2 linked regions of the Homo sapiens genome follow. The main gene of each other region encodes a partner of the protein of the gene in region 2 in a complex. Each region holds a gene or a part of one and is shown on either strand. Other genes may lie near its edges. A codon is read from its position in the direction of its gene.

Evidence for each region. The genes of interacting proteins can lie anywhere in the genome.
Region 1: the proteins of CWC22 (region 2) and EIF4A3 are in contact, whole or in part, in a crystal structure (PDB 4C9B), measured with the Homo sapiens proteins. Residues at the interface, in NP_001362958.1 of Homo sapiens: Thr129, Gly130, Gly131, Ala132, Tyr133, Pro135, Pro136, Ala137, Lys138, Arg140, Lys164, Asn167, Gly168, Ile170, Asn171, Lys172, Val173, Asn174, Ser176, Asn177, Ile180, Ile181, Glu184, Ala207, Ser208, Ile210, Phe211, Tyr215, Lys330, Arg331; in NP_055555.1 of Homo sapiens: Met43 (codon at 1,755), Gly44 (codon at 1,752), Ile72, Ile73, Lys74, Gly75, Gln98, Cys99, Met183, Gln213, Val256, Ala257, Glu259, Trp263, Asp266, Thr267, Asp270, Leu271, Tyr272, Asp273, Thr274, Leu275, Thr276, Ile277, Thr278, Gln279, Ala300, Asn301, Phe302, Thr303.

What each region holds. Positions count from the first base shown.
Region 1 is NC_000017.11:80,145,081-80,148,826, forward strand, and holds the start of EIF4A3 (eukaryotic initiation factor 4A-III), read right to left. Parts: upstream 2,049-3,746; 5' UTR 1,882-2,048; coding exon 1,713-1,881; intron 1-1,712. UniProt on the Homo sapiens protein: ATP-dependent RNA helicase. Involved in pre-mRNA splicing as component of the spliceosome. Core component of the splicing-dependent multiprotein exon junction complex (EJC) deposited at splice junctions on mRNAs.
Region 2 is NC_000002.12:179,972,640-179,976,385, forward strand, and holds part of CWC22 (pre-mRNA-splicing factor CWC22 homolog), read right to left. Parts: intron 1,164-3,746; coding exon 995-1,163; intron 608-994; coding exon 554-607; intron 1-553. UniProt on the Homo sapiens protein: Required for pre-mRNA splicing as component of the spliceosome. As a component of the minor spliceosome, involved in the splicing of U12-type introns in pre-mRNAs. Promotes exon-junction complex (EJC) assembly.

The DNA.
Region 1 (3,746 bases), on a different chromosome or scaffold from region 2:
ATTTAAACTCTTCATGAAGAGCAAGCACATAGATGGGAAACTAACAACAGTGTCTTAGGGCAGGGACTGCCTGAGTGCCAGGAAACCAGGTGGGGCTGTCAGCCTCACTGTGAGGCTGCCTGAGATGCTTTTTCACCACGCATCCTCAGCAACTTCGCTTCACTTTGTCCAAACTGTTGTGGCATCAAGAACTACAGGATACGGCCAGGTGGGGTGGCTCACACCTGTAATGCCATCACTTTGGGAGGCTGAGGCTGGTGGATCACTGAGGTCAGGAGTTCAAGACCAGCCTGGGCAACATGGCAAAATCCCCTCCCTACTAAAAATACAAAAATTAGTAGGACGTGGTGGCCCACACCTATAATCCCAGCTACTCGGGAGGCTGAGGCAAAGGAATCGCTTGAGCCCCAGAAGTGGAAGTTGCAATAAGCTGAGATCATGCCACTACACTCCAGCCTTGGTGACAAGAGCAGGACTGTCAGAAGGAAAAGGAAGAAAGAAAAGGAAGAGAACTACAGGATAAAAAATGTCCCTGTCCCAAGCATTAAACACAGGCCATTTATCCCAGATGCTGGTCATTCCCATCTATGTGCCCAACCCAACCTCTTCTCCAGGCTCTCCCTCAACTTCCTCACATCTTTCAAACATACCAAGAGACAGCTCCTGATTCTGACTCTCTGGAGTGCTGCCTACCTAGCCAAATGTTTGCAGCATCAACCACCGGTTACTCAAAACACTCCAACTCTCCTCCTTCTGTCACTCACGTTCAATCCATCAGCCAATGCTGTCAGCTCCCTGGTACTCCATCTCCAAGGCAGCACAATCCTCTCTTCCCTGAACTGCAGCAAAAGCTCCCAACTCTCTTGTTTCCTCTCCTGCCTTGCCTCGCCTCACCTCAAATCTACAGACACCCAGAAGAATCTTTAAAACTGTAAATGTGATCGTGTCACATAGCTACTTAAAACCTTCCACTGGCTTCCCACTAGATTTCTAAATGAAATTCAAATTATTCGTCACCCTACACGTCTTTGCTAGATCTGCCCCGACTAGCTCTCCAAAATCCCACCACAGGGGACTTCTTTCAGTTCCTGGAATGCAGCTGGCTAAGGGCTGCAAGGCCCTGGCACCAGCTGTTCCTTCTGCCCCAACTGCTCTTCCCTCTTCTCATAACAGTCTCCTTCATCCAGAACTCTGCTCAAATGGCACCCCCTCCTGCGAACCCCCTTACCTCTCTGCTTTACTAATTCTCTCCTCCTTCCCAGTCCCACTCTATTCAATTACCCCGCTTCAGGTTCTTCAGGTTGCCTGGGCAACCTGACAGTATGCTTTCCCCCCAAACGAAATTCAAAACCCGTAAAGGCGCAAACCCTTCCGGTTTACCGCCAAAACCCCAGTACCTAGAAAAGCTAATAGGTAGAAATCAGTTATCTGCTGAATGAAGGACGCTGAGGTGCCTCGAAGCGGCTGCAGCCCCCGACAGACCCAGCGCCGAGCTCTGCACGGGGGACACACACCGAAAGCGCCGACACAGCCAGGCGTGAGGGCGAGGACGGGGGTGGGGGTGGGGGTCGGACGTCACTGGCCCCCGAGCCTCGACCCTGACCACGACCTCCGGAGCGCAGGGCCGGCCCGGGAGTCACCAGTCTGGCCCTCAGCCCCCGGCTCGCCCCCGACTCGCCCCCGGCTGGCCCCCGCGGCCCGCGCCCGCTCACCGTAAGCGTAGATGCCCCGCAGCAGGTCCTCCCGCAGGCCCATGGTGTCGAACGTGGGGGTCACATCCACCTCCTCGCTGGTCTCGAATTCCACTTTAGTCATGTCTTCCTCTTTGAGCAGCCGCTTTCGCGCCGAGCCCGAGGTCGCCATCGTGGCCGTGGTCGCCATGATTCAGAGTCCGCGGAAGAGCACAGCGCGCGCCGCTGCCGACCTCGCTGCCGCTGCCGACCTCGCTGTGCCGCTGCCGACCTCGCTGCCGCTGCCGACCTCGCTGTGCCGCTGCCGACCTCGCTGTGCCGCTGCCGACCTCGCTGTGCCGCTGCCGACCTCGCTGTGCCGCTGCCGAGAACAGACGCCTTAAGTATGCGAAAGCGAGAGACGTGCGTGCGTACGTGCGTACGTGCGTACGCGCGACGCGGCCACGCCTCTGGGGGACGGGGCACTCTTCGTCACGTGAAAGGGAACTGGGCGTTTGCCGCAGGGAAAAGTAAGGTGTTTCTGCTCTCGCGCCATATGCAGTTCCCGCGGGATCTCGTTGAGGGCGGGGCACCCAGTTCCTTACGAAAGGGATGGAGGGGGTGGTACTTCTAAAGTTGGCGGTGTTTCGTACCGGCCGCGGGATTTCGCGGACTGGGGCGCTGAGGTTCTTTGAGCGGCGTGTGGACCTGAATTCCCTGGAAACAGGCTGGGGCCGCGAGGGGCCTCCGCTCCGGGCGGGGTCCCCAGATAGCCCCGCCTCGAATAAAAATGACGAGCACGGGTCCTCTCTCGGGCCCGCAGTGGGTGGACTGCGTCGCAGACCCGTAGTGGAGGCGCCCAGCTCGCCGGGGAGATTCGAGTGGAAACCCTCACGGCCGCCGGTGGTGGGCCCCGGCGCGGCGCTGGGCTCCGGCGGGTCTGCGCTGGGGAGGGCCAGGGCCCCTGAAGCCGGCGTCCCTCTTAGGGGACGCGCCTGGGTGTGTCTTCACCGTTTGCCTGGTGAGTTGGAGACAGGGTCTCGCTCCGTCGCCCAGGCTGGAGTGCAGTGGTAGGATCAGGGTTCATTGTAGCCTCCGCCTCAGCCTCTGGAGTAGCTGGGACCTCAGGCGCGCGCCACCACGCCCGGCTAATTTTTTAAATTTTTTTGTAGAGACGGGGTTGGGGGAGGCGGGGGTTAGGGTTGTCCTGGCTGGTCTTGAACTGCGGGGCCTCAGGTGATCCGCCTGCCTTGGCCTCCCAAAGTGCTGGGATTACAGGCATGAGCCACTGTGCCCGGCAAGCAGCTGTTATAAATAAAATACATGCTGAGCCTGCAATTTGCTCTTAATGAAGGCCACTTGTCAGTAGACGGTGCTGCTAATGCGTGTCCTGCAGCAAAGATAACCCAGACGGGATCATTTTTTAATTGCCCAGCAGAACTTTAACCAGTTGTGCATCTTAACCTGCTTTTTGTTTGTTCGTTTGTTTGTTTTGAGACAGTCTGGCCCTGTCGCCCAGGCTGGAGTGCCATGGCGCGATCTCGGTTCACTGCAGCCTCCACCTCCCGAGCACAGGCGATCCTCCCGCCTCAGCCTCCAGAGCACCTGGGACCACAGGTGTCCACGCGCAGCCACTAACCGCTTTCTTATCTGACACTTTAAGTGCTTCTTCGTACCCAGCTCCTCTAACGCCTTTTGAAGCAGCTCCATCATCTTTGAAGGGCAGTTCATGCTGTTGAGAATCATGTTTTTAACTTTGGGAAAATTGTATTTCCACGAGCGCCAGCTCTGTCCTTTTTTTTTTTTTTTTTTTTTTTTTTTTTTGACGGAGTCTTGCTCGGTTCGCCCAGGCTGGAGTGCAGTGTCGCGATCTCAGCTCACTGCAAGTTCTGTCGCCCAGGTTCACGCCATTCTCCTGCCTCAGCCTCCCAAATAGCTGGGACTACAGACACGCGCCACCACGCCCAGCTAATTTTCTGTATTTTTAGTATAGACCGGGTTTCACCATGTTGGCCAGGATGGTCTTGATCTCTTGACCTCATGATCCGCCCACCTCGGCTTCCCAAAGTGCTAGGA
Region 2 (3,746 bases):
TGTACAGTATTAAGTCAGATTAATTTGATAAATATCTAAAGTGTTTTGATCAGCATCAAAGTGTTATATTAAAGAATATTAAATATGGCCAGGCGTGGTGGCTCACACCTGTAATCTCAACACTTTGGGAGGCCGAGGCTGGTGGATCACGAGTTCAGGAGATCGAGACCATCCTGGCTAACATGGTGAAACCCCGTCTCTACTAAAAATACAAAAAAAACTAGCCGGGCGTGGTGGCAGGTGCCCGTAGTCCCAGCTACTCGGGAGGCTGAGGCAGGAGAATGGTGTGAACCCAGGAGGCAGAGCTTGCAGTGAGCCAAGATTGTGCCACTGCACTCCAGCCTGGGCGACAGAGTGAGACTCCATCTCAAAAAAAGAAAAAAAAAAAGAACATTAAATATATTTATTATAGTTTTAAAATGAAAATATCATCCAACATTTTTATCCCAAGGACTATAAAGCAAAGCAAAAATAGAGAGGTATCAGTGAAGTGGCATCAACCCTCTGGTCTAATGCCACTGAATGGGACCAAGTATTGAAGATAATTACTTACCACATTTTGGTTAATAAGATGCGCCACAAATTTTGAAGCAGTCAGGCAAAGTTGCTGAAAAATAAAGGTGGAAAGTTAACCTATAAACTAAACCCAATTTTCATTTATTTACATAATCTATGGCCTACTAACATCATCTATTTAAAACATGTACCACACAAGTATAATTTTTACATTATAAGAAAGTTACAAAATAAAACACATGAAAGAGTATCCCTTCTGGTTAAATAGTTATAGTTCTACAGTTATAGCCATCATTTTTGTGGCTCATCAATAGTGGCCAGGGATATTTAACAGATCAAAGAAGTTCTCATGAAAGACAGTTTTTAAAAAGCATTATGTTATGTAGCTGTGTCAAAATCAACCTTGCTTACTTTTGTTGATACTGGTTTGTTAGTTTGTTCCTATGTATCATTCTACTTACAAGCCATTCATATATACCTTGTCATTTCTTCGATAGCCTTTTCGAAAATTAAGAATTAACCTTTTGAGGATTAATTCTCCAATTTGTGGAAATTTTGAGTTGATAATTGCCACTAATGCTGCATAAACATGGGTGAAGATTGGAGAAGCACTCTGTGCTTGCAAAACAGACCTGGACAGCAGTCCTCTGTTTAAAAAAGAATTTAAAAAGGAGTCAACAATAATCACCAAATTAATTAAACGAAACAAAAACTATTAAAATTCAGTAATATTTCTCTATAAGTAATCATAAAATCTAAATCAGAACTAACTGGAAAGAGTTTGTCTTACTAATAAATAAAAATTGTTTTTCAGAAAACGAAATGTGAATTTGTGATTTTGTAAAATAGAATGAAGATTTTACTGCAATTTATCACCAAAATTTTTCTCTCTACATATAATTCCTCTTTTCCCAGTCTGTTATATCTAATCATGAATTTGAACCTTAAAAAGGTTCATATAAATAATTTCTTTAACATTTTTTAAAAAGTAAACAAAAGCAGACCTGCTTCAAAAGTATAAAAGGTAGATAACATAAAGTTTCTACTACAGATCTGTCATTTTTATAAAATTAATTTTGTGATTAAAGACAAATTTGGGTTTAAATCTTTAAGTCTAATTTTAGTAGAATAAAATGAAGATGTGGAATACTCCTGTGAGAAATAAAGAAACGAATTAAAAGCAATGCCAGATTAATGCTAAAACAGTAACAGGAAATTAAAAGGTACCTACTTGTAACTCATTTTGAAAATGGTCATGTTTCTATATGCATTTGATGAGGAAGGGGAAAGGCAAATTGGGCAAACTAAAGTTACTTTTAGCAATGTAATGACAAGTAATTATTGGATTGCCAAAAGTCAGGAAAAAAAGTCTTAATGGTAGTTTTAGATATGACAACTGAATCACTAGAGTGGAAAATAAGAAAAAGGATGCAGCTTATAAATTATAGTATCTTTAGCAATCCATAACTCTTCTAAGTCTACTTTTTTTCTAAGTAAATTGGAGAGATCTCTGCCCACTTTTGAGGATAATGGCTGTCTCTTGATCAACTTTCTCTACCTCTAAAACTTGCTGCTCCTACTTTATACCCCCACCTTTTTTGGAGAGGTTGGGGAGAGACAGGGTCTCACTCTGTCACCCAGGCAGGAGTGCAGTGGGGCGATCTTGGCTCACTGGAAGCTCTGCCTCCTGGGCTCAAGCAATCCTCCCACCTCAGCCTCCGGAGGAGCTGGGACTACTGTGTGCCACCACGCCCAGCTAATTTTTGTATTTTTCATAGAGACAGGTTTTCACAATGTTGCCCAGGCAACTCCTGGACTCAAGTGGTCCTCTTGCCTCAGGCTCCCAAAGTGCTAGGATTACAGGCTAGGATTACAGCGACCGTGCCTGGCCACTACATTCCATATTTTTTTAAAGATGAATCATAGTCATGTAAAATGACATGAGAAAACAGCCCTCAGATTTTAAAATAATAAATACAACATGGAGTAATTCTATTTTCTGACCCTTTTAAATATCACCAATTGCTTAAAGCCACATATTCTTATAGAATACGGTGATTCCCTTCTGCTTTTCTAAAATGTATTGCTCATCTTTCCCATTTCTCTCACATTCCCATTTCACTCTCACTAGAAATTAAATTGGAATAAAGGCCATATATGACGAACCCATAGCTAATATACTCAACGGTGACAAGCTGAAAGCTTTTCCTCTAGGATCAGGAATAAGAAAAGGGTGCCTACTCTTTCCAATTCTATTCAACATAGTACTAGAAGTCCTAGCCAGAGCCATTAGGCAAGAGAAAGAAATAAAAGGTATCCAAATCAAAAATAGAGAAGCCTGTTTGCTGTAAACAGGATCTTAATATAGAAAACCCTAAAGACTTAACCAAAAAATTGTTAGAACTAATAAACTAATTTAGTAAAGCTGCAGACACAAAATCAACATACAAAAATCAGTAGTGCTTCCATATGCTTACAATGAACTATCTTTCTGAAAAATCAAGAAAACATCCCATTTACAATAGCTATGAAAAAAAAAGTTAGGAATAAATCTAACCATGGAGATGAAAGAGCTGTACACTAAAAACTACAAATTGCTGATGAAAAAATGGAAGAACATGCATGACATCCCATGTCCATGGACTGAAATAATATGTTAAAATGTCCACAGTACCCAAAGCAACATACAGACTGGACTCAATCCCTATCAAAATTCCAGTTACGTTTTTCACAGAAATAGAAAAAACAATCCTAAAACTCACATGGAACCACAAAAAACTCCAAATAGCCACAGCAATCTTGAACAAAAAGAACAAAGCTGGAGGCATCACACTCCCTGACCTGGAATCTGCTACAAAGTTATAGTAATCAAAACAGAATGACAATAGTATAAAAACAGACACATAGAGCTACAGAGAACAAAGAAACCAGAGATAAATCCAGACATTGGCAGTCAACTGATTTTCGACAAAGATGCTAAGAAGACACAATAGGGAAAAGACAGTGTCTTCAATAAATGGTGCCAAGAAAACAGAATACCCAGATGCAGAAGAATGAAAATAGACCTTAGTCCCACAGCATATACAAACATCAACGCAAAACAGATTAAAGACTTAAACATTAGACCTGAAACTGTGAAACTACTATAAGTTTCTAAAAGAAAAATACAAAGGAAAAGCTCTGAGACACTGGTATGGTTAATGATTTTTTGGATATGACCCCTAAAGCAC